2 separate regions of the Homo sapiens genome follow, and region 1 is linked to region 2. The links come from fine-mapping of genetic effects on gene expression. A gene starts in region 2. The other region holds a variant in brackets. All regions are shown on one strand. Distances are from middle to middle.

Evidence for each region. PIP is the estimated chance that this variant, and not a neighbour inherited with it, causes the effect.
Region 1: its variant is fine-mapped to the expression of APOA1 in atrial appendage (GTEx, PIP 0.97).

Annotation. Positions count from the first base shown.
Region 1 is chr11:116,811,140-116,819,471 of GRCh38, reverse strand. LNC-RHL1 (lncRNA regulator of hepatic lineages 1) reads left to right here and starts at 5,290. Exons shown (of 2, transcript XR_007062898.1): 1 at 5,290-5,556; 2 at 6,019-6,563. The variant C/T (reference allele first, on the strand shown) is at 4,797.
Region 2 is chr11:116,833,208-116,841,539 of GRCh38, reverse strand. APOA1 (apolipoprotein A1) reads left to right here and starts at 3,918. Exons shown (of 4, transcript NM_000039.3): 1 at 3,918-3,935; 2 at 4,133-4,195; 3 at 4,383-4,539; 4 at 5,129-5,789. The coding sequence starts at 4,153. The coding sequence ends at 5,732. It also overlaps APOA1-AS.

The DNA.
Region 1 (8,332 bases), 22 kb after region 2:
CTTAGAGAGGAGTTGTGCTGAAGGTTTGATGGAGCAACGGAGTCAAGCACTTAACATCAGGCACAGAATAACCGTGCAATAGCTGGTGCTGCAGTAAATGTGACTTCCTCATCCCGCTCACCTCCAGGCCACACTCTATTAATGAGACCGCCACAGCTGGCCAAGGGTAGACCCCCGGGTCTCCCCTGCCCCAGCTGCTCTCGCTCCTGCATACCAGGCCAGTAAGGCTGCTGCGGCCACTTTGATACCTACCCCCACTAGAAGCACAGGAACCTATGGGGAAACACCTTGACAAACCCACCAGGCACCTGGAGGTTTACTGGATGGCTTTAGGAAAGGGCCAATGAGGCCAAACAGAGCAACGAGTCACCAAAAGGAAGTGAGATGCAGGGTGGGCCGGGTTCCAAGAGGGTCTGGAAGCTTCTGAGATGCTCTCAGACCTCACCTGAGGGCTGCCTGGTTTAGTGCTGACTCCAGAACCCCTGGGGGCCTCAGTGTCTCCCAGAACTTGGTTCTTAATATGAACCCTGGGCCGGGCGCGGTGGCTCATGCCTGTAATCCCAGCACTTTGGGAGGCCGAGGTGGGTGGATCATGAGGTGAAGAGATCAAGACCATCCTGGCCAACATGGTGAAACTCCGTCTCTACTAAAAATACAAAAAATTAGCTGGGCGTGGTGGTGGGCTCCTGTAATCCCAGCTACTTGGGAGGCTGAAGCAGGAGAATCGCTTGAACCCAGGAGGCGGAGGTTGCAGTGAGCCAAGATCGCGCCATTGCACCACTCCAGCCTGGGCAAAAAGAGAGAAACTCTGTCTCAAAAAAAAAAAAAAAAAAAAAAAAAATATATATATATATATATATATACACACACACATATATATTCATATATAATTCATATATATATTCATATATAATTCATATATATATTCATATATATTCATATATAATTCATATATATATTCATATATATTCATATATATTCATATATAATTCATATATAAATTCATATATATTCATATATATATTCATATATAAATTCATATATATTCATATATAAATTCATATATATTCATATATATATTCATATATATATTCATATATATTCATATATATATTCATATATAATTCATATATATATTCATATATATATTCATATATAAATTCATATATAATTCATATATATATTCATATAGATATTCATATATAATTCATATAGATATTCATAGATATTCATATATATTCATATAGATATTCATATATTCATATATATTCATATATTCATGTATATTCATATAGATATTCATATATAGATATTCATAGATATTCATATATAGATATTCATATAGATATTCATATATAGATATTCATATAGATATTCATGTATAGATATTCATATATATATATTCATATCTATATGAATATAGATATGAATATATCTATATATGAATCCTGGATTAGACCCGTGCACCTCTCCCACCACCCTTAGGGCCATCCTGCAGGTCTCTGAGGGTCCTGCCACAGTCCTCGTCCTCCTGGATGAGGAATGCCTTCTCTTTCCTGTACCAAGATGTCTCATCAATCCCCTGGGTCTGGCAGAGGTCTCTTGGTAGTAACTTTGCTTTTGGCTGCTGCAGTGAACTGAATGTTTGCGTCCCCCTAAATTCCTATGTTGCAATTCTAATCTGTAAGGTGATGGCATTAGGAGAGAAGGCATTTGGGAGGTGATCAGGTCATGAAGGGGGAGCCCTCATGAATGAGATTAGTGTCCTTATAAAAGAGGCCCCACAGAAATCCCTTGCCCCTTCCACGTGCGAGGACACAGCGAGAAGGTGCCATTTATGAACCAGGAAGTGGGCCCTCACCAGACACGGGATATGCTGGTGCCTTGCTCTTAGACTTCCCAGCCTCCAGGACTATGAGGAATAAATGTCTGTTGTTTGTAATCCACCCAGTTTTTGGTGTCTCGTTATAGAAGCCCAAAAGATCTAAGACACTTTCCCAGCCTCTGAAGCTCTCCTGTTTTGTTTCGAAAGTGTCTCGCTGATGAGTTTTGGTGGGAGTCAGAGGCTGCCTCCATTACAGACACTAACAACTCCAGTCGCCTGCCTTCTAGCCTCGCTTACCTCCAGCATGGGACATGGGACCTATGCTCAGCAAATCAGATGTAATTGCCCCAGACTGGTGTAAAGAAACAGAGACAGTGGAGAATCTTTTCTGGGGTGGGCAGGAACAGTGCGGCAGCAACAGGCAGCTTGCGGCCAGGCTAGAGCCTCAGGCCAGGGACCAGGCGTGGCAGTGGCTGGTGGGCAAACTGGGCTGTCCCCATCCTGGCTCAGTGGTGACAGCACAGCCGTCCCCATCACTCTAGTTCTGTGGCATGAGCATGGCCATGTTTCTCCCTCAGCTCCCCTTATTCTTGTTTATTTTCCAAACCAAGTACTCCAGCTTTCCTAGACATTTCCTTGAAATTCCTGGAAATATGTCAGTAAGTTCATCTTCTGATTATGTCTTCCAGAGTAGGTTTCTGTGGCTAGCAATTAAAAACCTTGATTGAGGCCAGGCGTGATGGATCACGCCTGTAATCCCAGCACTTTGGGAGACTGAGGTGGGTGAATCACCTGAGATAGGGAGTTCGAGACCAGCCTGACCAACATGGTGAAACCCCCGTCTCTACTAAAAATACAAAAATTAACTAGGTGTGGTGGCACACGCCTGTAATCCCAGCTACTCAGGAGGCTGAGGCAGGAAAATTGCTTGAACCCAGGAGGTGGAGGTTGCAGTGAGCTGAGATCAGGCCATTGCACTCCAGCCTGGGTGAAAGAGCAAGACTCTGTCTCAAAAACAAACAAACACACACACATCACTTTGATTGACACACCCCACACACCCCTTCCCTCTTAGGGATGTTTCTCTTGCTTTGGGCCTTGGAAGACACACCCTCATCTCTGGCCTGTTCCAGTTGGTCAATTGGTTTGTCTGAGATACACTTATTAGTCCTCATTAGGGTTGGTCCCATCTTCCAAGGAAAGCAGCCTTCCTCCTGTTCTGAGCTAGCAGGTGGACTTAGTCCCCCTGTGGCCAGTCAGTCCTCTGCTCCTCTCCAGCGGCTGAGCTGACTGGGGACCTGGGCAACAGCCTCTACCTGCCCTTCTCAGAGATTCTCTAACAGCTGGTCTCAGATCTCTCATGAGGTCCTGAGTTCAAGCAAAACACTCTGGTTTGGTTTGGGGAATCTGTTTATTTATGGGAAGATGTCCAAGATATTTTATGAAAAAAAAAAAAGCAAGGTTTCAACTATTATGTACTTTACAACCCGGTCAAGGAACACACATACATATTGGTATGTGAACGTGTAAGGAAGTGAAAATCCTGTTAGCTTAACAGTTAGACCTAGAATACCTCTGAAAGAGAGAATGTCATTGACAGTGCATGCTAGCTGTTGACCAGGACACCCAGAGGAACTGGCTGGAAAGAGACCACAAGGCAGAGAGATGGAGTCAATTGTTCCGTGCATTCCCTGCACTGGCATTTGAGGTGGTAATGAAGAGTAGGAAAGGAGGGGAGGTCACAGAAGGGAAAACAGGGAATACATGAGGAGGTGAAAGCCCCCTACAAATGATGGCCAATAAGAAATGCCCAGTGGCAACGGTTGTAGAGCTTTTCAATGCAAGGATGGCAATTCATTGCTGACTGCAATGCTGGTAGTGTGAGGTGCTTTTAAAAACCACCTTATATTACCATATTGGCTCATATAATTCTCATGATCGACCATCACATCAAAGACACAATAGATGAGGAAGAGGCACTTCAGAATGGTGAGGTACATTACCTAGCAAGTGGTGGAATGGGATTTTTTTTTTTTTTTTTTTTTTTTTTTTTTTACCAGCGCTTTGGGAGGCCAAGGCGGGTGGATCACTTGAGGTCAGGAGTTCAAGACCAGCCTGGCCAACATGGCGAAACCCCCTCCTCTATTAAAAATACAAAAATTGGCTGGGCTTTGTGGTGCGTGCTTGCAATCTCAGCTACTAGGGAGGCTGAGGCAGGAGAATCGCCTGAACTCGGGAGACGGAGATTTCAGTGAGCCGAGATCATGCCACTGCCAGCCTGGGTGACAGAGTGAGACTCTGTCTCCAAAAAAAAAAAAAAGAAGAGAAAGAAAAAAATATGCCATTTTAGGCCAGGTGTGGTGGCTCACACCTGTAATCCCAGCACTTTGGGAGGCTGAGACAGGTGGATTGCTTGAGCCTAGGAGTTCGAGACCAGCCTGGCAACATGGCGAAAACTTGTCTCTACAAAAAATACAAAAATTAGCCAAGTGTGGTGGTGCACACCTGTGGTCCAAGCTACTCGAGAGACTGAGGTGGGAGGATTGCTTGAGCCCAGGAGGTTGAGGCTGGGGTGAGTTGAGATCATGCCACTGCAGTCCAGCCTGGGCAACAGAGGAAGACCCTGTCTCAAGAAAAAAAAAAAAAAGAAGAAGAAGAAAAGAAAAAAATGCCACCACTTTAGTATTACTTTTATAACATAAAATTTACCATTTAAACTATTTATAGGTGTTCAAGTCAGTGGCATTAATTACATTTACAATGTTGTGCAACCACCGCCACCACTATTTCTGAAAATCTTTTCATCACCCCAAACAGAAAACTCTATCCATTAAGCAATTGTGAAAACTGCCGCTATGAATGGGGGTGTACACATATCTTTCCAGTCCTTGCTCTCAATTCTTCTGAGCAAATATCCAGAAGTGGAATTGCTGGGTCACACGGTAATTCTATATTTAAATTTTGGAGGAAC[C/T]GCCAAACTGTTTTTTTATAGTAGTGGCACCATTTCACATTCCCACTGGTGACGCCCAGGGTTCCAATTTCTTCACAGCCTCTCCAACGCTTGTTGTTTTCTGTTATTTTTTGGTTTTGTTTTATTTTGTTTTTAACAATAGTCATCCTGAGAGTAGTACTTTTAAAACCAGAAATAAGTAAGAAAAGAAATATTCCCCAGAGCTTCTCCAGGCTACAGTCTATGCCACCAGGAAAGACTGAATCATTGAGACCCATAGGAGAGCGTGTGCTGGGAGGTCCCTGTGGGCACCAGGGAGGTGTGTTTGAACTCCAGCCCAGCCCACATTAGCTTACCCAACAGTCCCTCAGAGCCAGCACAATTTCAGGCCATTATCTCCCTGGTCACCACTGGCTCCTCAGGTGACTTGGAAGTAGATGACTCCTCTGTGGGCCTGGGTTAGTGCCTCAAAGGCATGCTGACCAGCACTGGTTTGGGCCAGGCTGAGATGCTAGCCACACTCCTATGCCCATCCCCAAGTTCAAAGGTCAGAAGTCCTCTGAGAACATCCAGGGTCACTACCCCTGAGGTCTCTGGTGTACTACGTGGCCCTGATTAGGGCAAAGGGAAGTGATCTGAGGGCCACTCTCTTCCTGTACATACAGGGCCTTGCTGCTCTTGAGGGATTGTCCTGGCAGGATCAAAAGCAGCTCCTGCATGGGGACGCCGTGTCCTCCTGCTGTTATCATAGTATGCCCTGTGCTCCCAGGAGGAGGCTGAGGTATGTCCTGGGGACAGAAACAACAAGCTTAGGGTTATTTGGGCACTCCCTTGTCTCCTGTCTGAGAGCGTGCAGGGTGGAGTCATGCTATCTTGCTGTGTGATGACAAGTAGCTGACAATGCAGGGGCACAATAAAAACCCCCGAATGGCCCACATCTGAGGAGCGAGGGTTTGGTGAGCTGCTGGTTCTGAGATAATGGATTGGTGATATGGGAACAAAAGACCTAGGACCTGGAATCATAAGATCACAGGGCATTAGGGTTGGAGGGAACAACCTTGTCTCTCAGCCCTAATTCCTTTGATATCATTTAAGGAATGATCTTAACTCTAGGCTAACAGCCCTCGAGCTCAGGCACACCATTTGTTTGTTCATCATTGTATTTGCAGGATGTGGTAGCTAGCCCTCACAATGGTGGCTGATGTGTGATCAATAGGCTATGTCATGGTATTTCACTTCTAAGTCTAGATCATAAAGGGCATTGTGGCACCTACCTTGATTTCTCTTGGATCACTCATTCTGAGGGAAGATAGCTGCCATGTTGGGAGGACGTGCAAGCAGCCCTGTGAAGAGGTCAACACAGGGGGGAACTGAAGCCCCTTCCAAACAGCTAGCACCAACTTGCCAGCCATGTAAAGTGATTCACCTTGGAAACAGATCCTCCAGCCTCAGCCAAGCCTTCAGATGCAACCTCATGACAGACTCTGAACCAGAAACACACAGCCAAGCTGCTGACCCACAGACTTTGTGAGAGATCATAAACATTTACTGTTGTTCTAAGACACTGTTTTAGGGTGCTTTGTTGTACAACAATAGCTTACTGAAAATACAGAGAGCCTAGCACAGTGCCTGCATGTGGTCATCACTCAATGGTTGAGCGAGTGAATCTTGCTTAGTATTGAACACTCCCACTGACAGCTAACTGTACCATCTCTCAAAACAATTCATTCTATCTTTGGGCAATTCTGTTAAAGATTATTAGAATTAAATTGGATCTTTCTCAATACAGCTTCCACATCTTGGTCTTATTTTTACTGCTCTTTCAAAAATCATTAAACTGGAATCTTTCTTAACATAGCTTCTACACTTTGATCTTACTTTTTTTCTCTTTCGAACCATAGAATAATTATTCCTTTATACATGCATTCTACGTACAGGAAATCTTCCCACAGACTCATTCATGGAACCCCAAACCATATGGAGAAAATTGAGCCAGAGATGTGTTATACTTCACAGCTGCCTTGGGTTGAAGAATCTTGGCTGGTTTCTGAAAGGGCAGAAGTCTTGTCTATGTTTATTCTTGAACAGTCAGTGCCTAGCATGATGACTAGAACTTAGTAGGTATTCAATAAATATTTGTTGACTGAATGAATTTAATAAATCTTTTTGTCTTGCTGAGTTGTATGAGATATATATATATTTTTATATTTATATGTATTTATATCTATATTTATATATAAATATATATATATCTCATACAACTCAGCAAGACAAAAAGATTTAAATATTTAATATATTTAAATATTTAATATATTTAATATATTTATATTATTTAAAATTATATTATTTAAAATATTTAATATATTTATATTAAATCCCAAAGTGCTGGGATTACAGGCGTGAGCCACTGCGCCCGGCGTGGATCCTCTCATTTTCTTATCTTTGTTCTTACTTCAATCTCTACATGCTCTCCCTTTCTGAACTATTTCTTTACTCTCTATTCAGTTTTTATTTCTACTATCTTTTTTTTAATTTCTAAGAGTTTTTGTTATTGTTATTCTGTGAAGGTCTTTTTATACTATCCTGTTCTTGTTTAATCAATGTAATCTTTTCATTCTCTGATGTTATTAATGGCATTTTTCAATGTTCTTCTTTCTGTATATTCTCAGTTTTCTCTAACTTCCTTTTTAAATATTTGTTTGTTTTGGGTCTCTATCTTTCATGTTAGAATCTTTCCTCAAATGACTGGTAATCCTTGGTTGCTTAAGTTTAAGAGTGGGAGATTTGGGCTGGGAGCGGTGGCTCACGCCTGTAATCCCAGCACTTTGGGAGGCCAAGGTGGGTGGATCACGAGGTCAGGAGATCGAGACCATCCTGGCTAACATGGTGAAACTCTGTCTCTACTAAATATGCAAAAAATTAGCCAGGCGTGGTGGCAGGTGCCTGTAGTCCCAGTTACTCAGGAGGCTGAGGCAGGAGAATGGCGTGAACCCGGGAGGCAGAGCTTGCAGTGAGCCGAGATCGCACCACTGCACTCCAGCCTGGGTGACAGAGCGAGACTCTGTCTCAAAAAGAAAAAAGAAAAGAATGGGAGATTTTAAAGGTGATTTGAAGCTCCAATACGTGCGTAGTACTTATTGACTATGAATGTCACTGCAGGGTGATCCACTGAGATGTTTAGCTGGGGAACCCCATTGTGAAAATCTTTGGGTCTTACCTCTTGAGCTGGACATATTCCCCTAAGAAATGTCTTTCACTCTTCTGCCTGGAGGGTAAAGGCCTGAATACAGTGTCCCTGGGGCCAAGTGGAAGAAGCAGGAGGGTGATTCAGCATTTCAGAGGGTATACTTTGATTTAATCCTCTTGCTAGTACAGGTCTCCTGCCCTCAACTCTGCCTGACGTTCAAGAGAATAAACTTCCAGTCTTCTACTAAGGTGAGACAGGGAAGCTAAAGCTCTAACTGCTCCTTAAATAGTTTCAACCAATCTTTCATGTTTTATGACAGCCTCCTCCGTCACCTCTACTTTCAGTAGAAACTGGTGTCCCAATTCAGGAC
Region 2 (8,332 bases):
GAGCTTAGCTCCAGAAAACAGGAGCCATGTTGACAGAAAACCGTGCTCTACACAGTTTTCTTTCTGACTTTGTGCCAGCCCCCACCCCACCCCAACTGCAAAGATCAAGAACTCAGAGGGCTACTGTGCTTCCCTCCTGCTGATCAAAGATGAGCTCTGTCCTGGCCTTAGTCTTTTCCAAGCAGGAGGGCAGGAGAGAATCTTGCATAGCTGGCTACGGTGCCCCACCCAAGGGTCTAACTTGGGGCTCTATCACAAAAGCTGCAGCAAAATTGCCAAAAGTAGGAACTACTGGGGGTGGGGGTCCTGTCTCCCCTGCTCAGTCACCACCTCCCCTCCCTAACTCTCATTCTGGCTCATACCACGTGCTCCCAGAAGAAACGTTCTGAGCAGGGGCTGGTATGAGACTGCCTCCCCTCCCAGGACCCACTCCTCCCTATGACCAGGCTGGTGACCCTCCCTCTAGGGTGCCAGTGCCATTCACTGAGCAGATGTTTGGCAGGTGTCTGTTATGTGCCAGACCTAGCAGGGGACAGAGTCCTCCCGATACAGATGGACCAGTATGTTTGGACATAAATTGTGAAAGGAGTTGCTAATCTTTCTGTGCAAAATCCACTCTTGCGGTCACCGCCAACACTCCTACACATGTCAGGGCATCCAGGGCCAGGACTTGGTAACCCTGTTCAGGAGCAGTCGCTCTGGAGACTCCCAAGACGAGGGAAAGAAATGGGTGGAAACAGGGGCCTACACTGTGGGCCCCGCAGCCACCAAACAGTCCAACCCGTGGCCACTGAGTGCCTTGAACAATGCCTGGCTGGACCCTGAGTCTGAGTGTGTCATCAACCCAGTTTGTTATTGTCGTTGTTGTTGTTATGTATTTTTCCATCAGCTCTGTCCAGAAAGACCTCCTTCCTTTCCAAAATATTAGTAAAGGGGGCTTAGACTAGTTTAAGCCAAATACCTTGCAATAAAATGGAGTAGCCACCCTGGTGAATAAGTATATTTAGAAAAGGAAACTGCCTGCTTGGTAAGATGCTGTTCAACAGCACCCCCTATCCTGATGCCTCGCAGTCCCTGAGCCAGGAAACTGAGAAGTCCCTGATCAGACTGCAAAGGCTGCAGGCTCCGCAAGGGTGCAAGGCCACCCTCAAAGAACTAGAAGCCAGGCCTCCCGATTCCCACCCCTGCCAGCGCTAAATAGTAACCGCTGAAGGATGCAGGGCAGCTGTGAGCTGCAGTTTTCCCACAGGCAAAAATCACAAGGGTAAAATCTGGCCTCCAGCCTTATAGGGATATTCTAAGTTGTGAAAGTGCTTTGGCCACAAAGAACTGCGCAAATGTTAAATACTAGGTTTAGCCATAACAATCATTTTAGTAACAAACCAAAGAGAAGGGTGAAACACTGGCAAGTATCTTGGAGTCCAACCAGTAAGCTTCTGAGATTCCCCCATGTGCTGACTGGGACAAACTCTACCCCCCAAAAGAAAAGACGCTCTCTTGGCCCGAGACACCTGTGAGCTGTCCCAGCAGGGGACCAGCCACCTTCCCACTTTCTAAAGCTACAGACAGCTGGGATGGTCAAGTAGGCAGCCCAGGCTGATGGCTCACCAAGGCCACCTCCCTGTCTACACAGTCCCATAGACATCTGGGGCCACTTCAGTCCTAGAAAAGATGTTCCATATCTCAGCAACTGCAAGTCAAGGACAAGCAGAGAGATGTGGGACTGCTGCCTTCATGCCTGCTGCAGAAGCTGAGGTCTCAGATCTGATAAAGCAAGTGTAGTGGGAATAAGGGAATACATTACCAGAAACTGGGATTCTAGAAAACAGAATAGTTACTGTTTACTAAGTGCTAGGTACCTTTCTAACAGTTTTGCATATATGTTCAAAGTTCATGCTTAAAACGATACAAATTTATTATCTTACAGTTATGGAGGACAGAAGTCCAAAATGGGTCATACTGGGCTAAAATCATGGTGGCAGCAGAGCTGTGCTCCTGGAGGCTGCAGGGAAAAATCCTTTGCCTTCTCCAGCTTCTAGGGAAGGGTTGCTCATGTCCCTCAGCTCATGGCCCCCTTCCAGCAGTCACGAGTCTGATCTCCACTGCCATCCTCACATCTCTTTCTCTGACTCTGAGGCCACTGCCTCCCTCTTGTATAATTAAGGACCCCTGTGATGACAATGGGCCCACCTGGAGAATCCAGGCCAACCACCCCATCTCCAGGTCCTTAATCACACTAGCAAAATCTTTTTTTGCCATGGAAGGTAGCAAAGCCACAGGTTCCAGGGATGAGGCTGTGGACATCTTTGGGGAGCGTTATTCTGCTTGCCACACAGTAACCCCTGCCATAACTCAGGGCGATGGCATATTCTATCATTATCTTCAATCAGAAACTGATGTGTGGGGAGGTGATGTATCATAACTCATCCAGGGTCAGGCAGCTGGATTTGAACCTGCCTGACCCTTAGATTTGAGGTTTTCTGGCTCCAGAATCTTCTCTGAAGTGAAAGGCATGAGGCCGACCACTCCCTGATCTGGTAAACAGAGATGTCAGCCTGGTTTCTAGTGTTAGGGAGTTTCCTGGAGTGATGGTACAGGGTACATTTCTGCCCTGCATCCCAAGTCCAGAGACTGGGTTCTAGGTCCAGCCTTTCTTCTAACTCCCTGAGAGATGACAGCCTCTGGGCAAAGTCCCTCTGTGCTCTTCAGTCTCTTCATCTGTGAGATGGTGGCATGGGGAGAGGCTGGAGTGATGTCACAGTTCCTCTCAGCCTGCATCACAGGCTCTAGGACTCAGGTCCTATCAGTAACCTGCTGGGGGAGGTCTGGGCCTTCCAGGAGAAACCTGACAAGATGGTGCTGCAAACACCAACGGACACACAGCACTTTACATTCACAGGCTGTCTCAGGGGCCTCCAACAACCCTGACCATTCTTGCCCCATTTTGCAGATAGAAAACCGAGGCTCAGAGAGATTATATAACTTGCCCACGATCTTCCTCCAGCAAGATGGAGGCCAAGTGAAATGAGAAAGCAGGTCTCCTGCCACTTCCTTTGCCCAGAGGTCTTCTCCCCACACCAGGGCTTCCCAAGGGCTGAGATCCAGTCACACCTGTGCGTGATCAAATATAAGTGTGAACAATGCAAAGGGAGACGTCTTCAATCTAAGGGGCTTCAATTCTGTAATGTAATTCTGAGATTATGCCCTTTTTTGTTAAAGCCTTTCCTTTTTGAAGTGATGGTCACTGTAGATGGTGAGGGTTTTTTGGAGGCGGACAATATCTTTACATGACAAAATTAAAAGTTGGCAGCTCCGAATTGATCTCTGGAGTGTTTTGAAATGCAAGAGGTCTCCGAAACCTCAGTCTGGGAGCCACGGAGGGCTCTCCCCTCTCCCCAGGTTTACCAGTTTGGGAGGCTTGGAGAGAGGCCTGGAGGACCTGCTGGGGACTAAAGAAGAGCACTGGTGGGAGGACAGGGCGGGGGAAGGGGGAGGGGAGTGAAGTAGTCTCCCTGGAATGCTGGTGGTGGGGGAGGCAGTCTCCTTGGTGGAGGAGTCCCAGCGTCCCTCCCCTCCCCTCCTCTGCCAACACAATGGACAATGGCAACTGCCCACACACTCCCATGGAGGGGAAGGGGATGAGTGCAGGGAACCCCGACCCCACCCGGGAGACCTGCAAGCCTGCAGACACTCCCCTCCCGCCCCCACTGAACCCTTGACCCCTGCCCTGCAGCCCCCGCAGCTTGCTGTTTGCCCACTCTATTTGCCCAGCCCCAGGGACAGAGCTGATCCTTGAACTCTTAAGTTCCACATTGCCAGGACCAGTGAGCAGCAACAGGGCCGGGGCTGGGCTTATCAGCCTCCCAGCCCAGACCCTGGCTGCAGACATAAATAGGCCCTGCAAGAGCTGGCTGCTTAGAGACTGCGAGAAGGAGGTGCGTCCTGCTGCCTGCCCCGGTCACTCTGGCTCCCCAGCTCAAGGTTCAGGCCTTGCCCCAGGCCGGGCCTCTGGGTACCTGAGGTCTTCTCCCGCTCTGTGCCCTTCTCCTCACCTGGCTGCAATGAGTGGGGGAGCACGGGGCTTCTGCATGCTGAAGGCACCCCACTCAGCCAGGCCCTTCTTCTCCTCCAGGTCCCCCACGGCCCTTCAGGATGAAAGCTGCGGTGCTGACCTTGGCCGTGCTCTTCCTGACGGGTAGGTGTCCCCTAACCTAGGGAGCCAACCATCGGGGGGCTTTCTCCCTAAATCCCCGTGGCCCACCCTCCTGGGCAGAGGCAGCAGGTTTCTCACTGGCCCCCTCTCCCCCACCTCCAAGCTTGGCCTTTCGGCTCAGATCTCAGCCCACAGCTGGCCTGATCTGGGTCTCCCCTCCCACCCTCAGGGAGCCAGGCTCGGCATTTCTGGCAGCAAGATGAACCCCCCCAGAGCCCCTGGGATCGAGTGAAGGACCTGGCCACTGTGTACGTGGATGTGCTCAAAGACAGCGGCAGAGACTATGTGTCCCAGTTTGAAGGCTCCGCCTTGGGAAAACAGCTAAAGTAAGGACCCAGCCTGGGGTTGAGGGCAGGGGTAGGGGGCAGAGGCCTGTGGGATGATGTTGAAGCCAGACTGGCCGAGTCCTCACCTAATATCTGATGAGCTGGGCCCCACAGATGGTCTGGATGGAGAAACTGGAATGGGATCTCCAGGCAGGGTCACAGCCCATGTCCCCTGCAAAGGACAGACCAGGGCTGCCCGATGCGTGATCACAGAGCCACATTGTGCCTGCAAGTGTAGCAAGCCCCTTTCCCTTCTTCACCACCTCCTCTGCTCCTGCCCAGCAAGACTGTGGGCTGTCTTCGGAGAGGAGAATGCGCTGGAGGCATAGAAGCGAGGTCCTTCAAGGGCCCACTTTGGAGACCAACGTAACTGGGCACTAGTCCCAGCTCTGTCTCCTTTTTAGCTCCTCTCTGTGCCTCGGTCCAGCTGCACAACGGGGCATGGCCTGGCGGGGCAGGGGTGTTGGTTGAGAGTGTACTGGAAATGCTAGGCCACTGCACCTCCGCGGACAGGTGTCACCCAGGGCTCACCCCTGATAGGCTGGGGCGCTGGGAGGCCAGCCCTCAACCCTTCTGTCTCACCCTCCAGCCTAAAGCTCCTTGACAACTGGGACAGCGTGACCTCCACCTTCAGCAAGCTGCGCGAACAGCTCGGCCCTGTGACCCAGGAGTTCTGGGATAACCTGGAAAAGGAGACAGAGGGCCTGAGGCAGGAGATGAGCAAGGATCTGGAGGAGGTGAAGGCCAAGGTGCAGCCCTACCTGGACGACTTCCAGAAGAAGTGGCAGGAGGAGATGGAGCTCTACCGCCAGAAGGTGGAGCCGCTGCGCGCAGAGCTCCAAGAGGGCGCGCGCCAGAAGCTGCACGAGCTGCAAGAGAAGCTGAGCCCACTGGGCGAGGAGATGCGCGACCGCGCGCGCGCCCATGTGGACGCGCTGCGCACGCATCTGGCCCCCTACAGCGACGAGCTGCGCCAGCGCTTGGCCGCGCGCCTTGAGGCTCTCAAGGAGAACGGCGGCGCCAGACTGGCCGAGTACCACGCCAAGGCCACCGAGCATCTGAGCACGCTCAGCGAGAAGGCCAAGCCCGCGCTCGAGGACCTCCGCCAAGGCCTGCTGCCCGTGCTGGAGAGCTTCAAGGTCAGCTTCCTGAGCGCTCTCGAGGAGTACACTAAGAAGCTCAACACCCAGTGAGGCGCCCGCCGCCGCCCCCCTTCCCGGTGCTCAGAATAAACGTTTCCAAAGTGGGAAGCAGCTTCTTTCTTTTGGGAGAATAGAGGGGGGTGCGGGGACATCCGGGGGAGCCCGGGTGGGGCCTTTGGCCCTGGAGCAGGGACTTCCTGCCGGATCTCAACAACTCCGTGCCCAGACTGGACGTCTTAGGGCCAAGATCGACGTTGGAGGACCTGCTGGACGCCTGGCTGCTTACGAGTGAGGGAGTAGAGTCTGCCTTAGCAAGGCTCAAGTAGAAAGGAAGTCACAGCGGACCAGGCAAAGCCACAGACAATCCAAGGCCAGGTGCCCTGAAAGGGGCTCAAACAAGGCCTGCAGCCCTGTCTGAGGCGGGCCAGGAAACAGGGTTGCTTTAGCTGGGAGCAGTGGGTTCCCCGTCCCCAGAGGTGTGTCCGTATAGAGCCTTCTCCAGCCCAGCCGCTGTCAGCGGGGCGGGACGGAGCGGGGCGGCCTCAGGGAGCCAGCCACTGGGATTGGGGTTTGGTCCCGGGTGCAAGTGAAGCGCTTGGAGTTTGCGCCTGTCCTCCTTTACTAATTCAAAAACCTCTCAAACAGACACTTCCCTTTTCTTCTCACAAGGCCAGTATCCCCCTCCCACTACTCCCATCCCGCCCAGAAACAGCCGCGGCTTCCTCAGGCACAGCAGTGGAAGCCAGTCCTCCACCCCCTGCGGCTCCATGCCATGCCACCCCCTCTTTCTGCCAGCCCTGGCAGAAGCTGGCCTGAGTAAGAAAATTCACCACCACCTCTTGCAGGTACATTTTTATTTCCAAGATGCTCTCATATCTGTGCTCTCACTGCATCCTCCCTTCCCCACATCCTGGCTAGATTGCCATCAGACGCAGAGCATGGATGAGGACACTGAAGCCTGGACCTGTGACGTCGCTTGCCCAGTGAACAGCAGGATGGGCTAGGCCGCGCTTTTTAGACCCTGCACCCCTGGCCATCCATGATTATTGAAAAGAGTGCGCGGGTCGGGTGCGGTGGCTCAAGCCTGTAATCCCAGCACTTTGGGAGGCTGAGGTGGGCGTATCACTTCAGGCCAGGAGTTTGAGACCAGCCTGGCCAATATGGTGAAACCCTGTCTCTACTAAAAATACAAAAAAAATCAGCTGGGCATGGTGGCTTGCACCCGTAATCCCAGCTACTAGGAAGGCTGAGGCAGGAGAATCGCTTGAACCTGGGAGGCAGAGGTCACAGTGAGCCGAAATCATGCCACTGCACTCCAGCCTGGGCGACGGAGCAAGACTCCAGCTAAAAAAAAAAAAAAAAAAAAAAGAGTGTGTGGCCTGGCACTCAAGTTCACATGGGTGTGCAGGCATGCCTGTGTATTCTCACATGACCTCCCTGCTCACGGTCCCTCCTTGCACTCATGTCTGAATGTCCCCGCGTGCACGCACATGGCTTCACAGATCTGGGCAGTGCCTTCCCTACCCTCTCTCTGCAGGGCCTTTTGCCCCCTCATGCAGGCCCCTGGATAATCGGCCCCATCCCCATGTCCCCATCTCCAGTGTATCTTAGCTACCCTAGGTAAAGGAGTGGGCTTTTTAGTTCCTAACCTTCCAGAGCTACAACAGCAGTCATCCAGCCAGGTCTGGGTGGGAACATTTTCTAGATACGGGTGCTGAGATCTCTCAGCCCAGAGAGAAGCCCTGGGGAATTTTCAGAGAGAAAGCAGTCTCCAGGTGGGGCTGGATGTACTGATGCCACTGAGATCTGTAAAGGAGTCCCTAACACCTGACATAGGAGTGACAAAACTGTTTTCTGCACCAACTGAGCAGAATACACGCAGCTGACCTGGGCTCAAGGTCTGGCCCTGCCACGTGCTGGCTCTGTGATGCTGGCCAAGTGCCTTCGCCTCTCCGGGCCACAGTTTTTTGATCTGAAGAGTGGAGCCCTACTCAAGCCATCTGCAGCTCTCGGGCTCTCTGACCTGACATCTTTCGGGTGGTGGGGACACAAAGGAAGCAGCCTCTATTGGGAGACCTTGTGCTTCTTTTTGGTCCCAGGACACTGCCCCCCACCACTCCAGTCCGGGTCCCAAGGGCCCAGTCAGCTCAACTGTAATCATGACAACATTGATCAAGCATCTTTACGTGCAGGTGCTGTGCCAAACGGTTCGAACGCTCTCTCATTTCAATCTCACGGCAAACCTACGGTGGAGGGGGTACGGTTGTATCCACTTTACATGTAAGAAACTGAGGCTGATATCAAGTGGTGGAGCCAAGAATAGTGCCTCGTTGCATCTTACTCCAACCTCTAGCCCATCCGGCCTCCTCCCTTCACGTGCGCCTAAGAGGGCTAGGGGGCCTGGATAGGGGAGGTCAGCTCCACAGTTTTGAGTAAACACACACAGTCTCAACTCTGATGACAACTTAAGTGCCAGGCATAGTGGCTGGCATGGGGCACACACTCAAGTCATGTTGTGCAGCACCTAACAGTTTATCAAAGTATCAGCAAACTTATTGTCCTGTTTGACCTTCCGCACAAAGCTGTCAAGGAAGGCAGGGTACGGAGGGTGATTCCTACCTTAGAGATGAAGAAACTGAGGCCCAGAGACT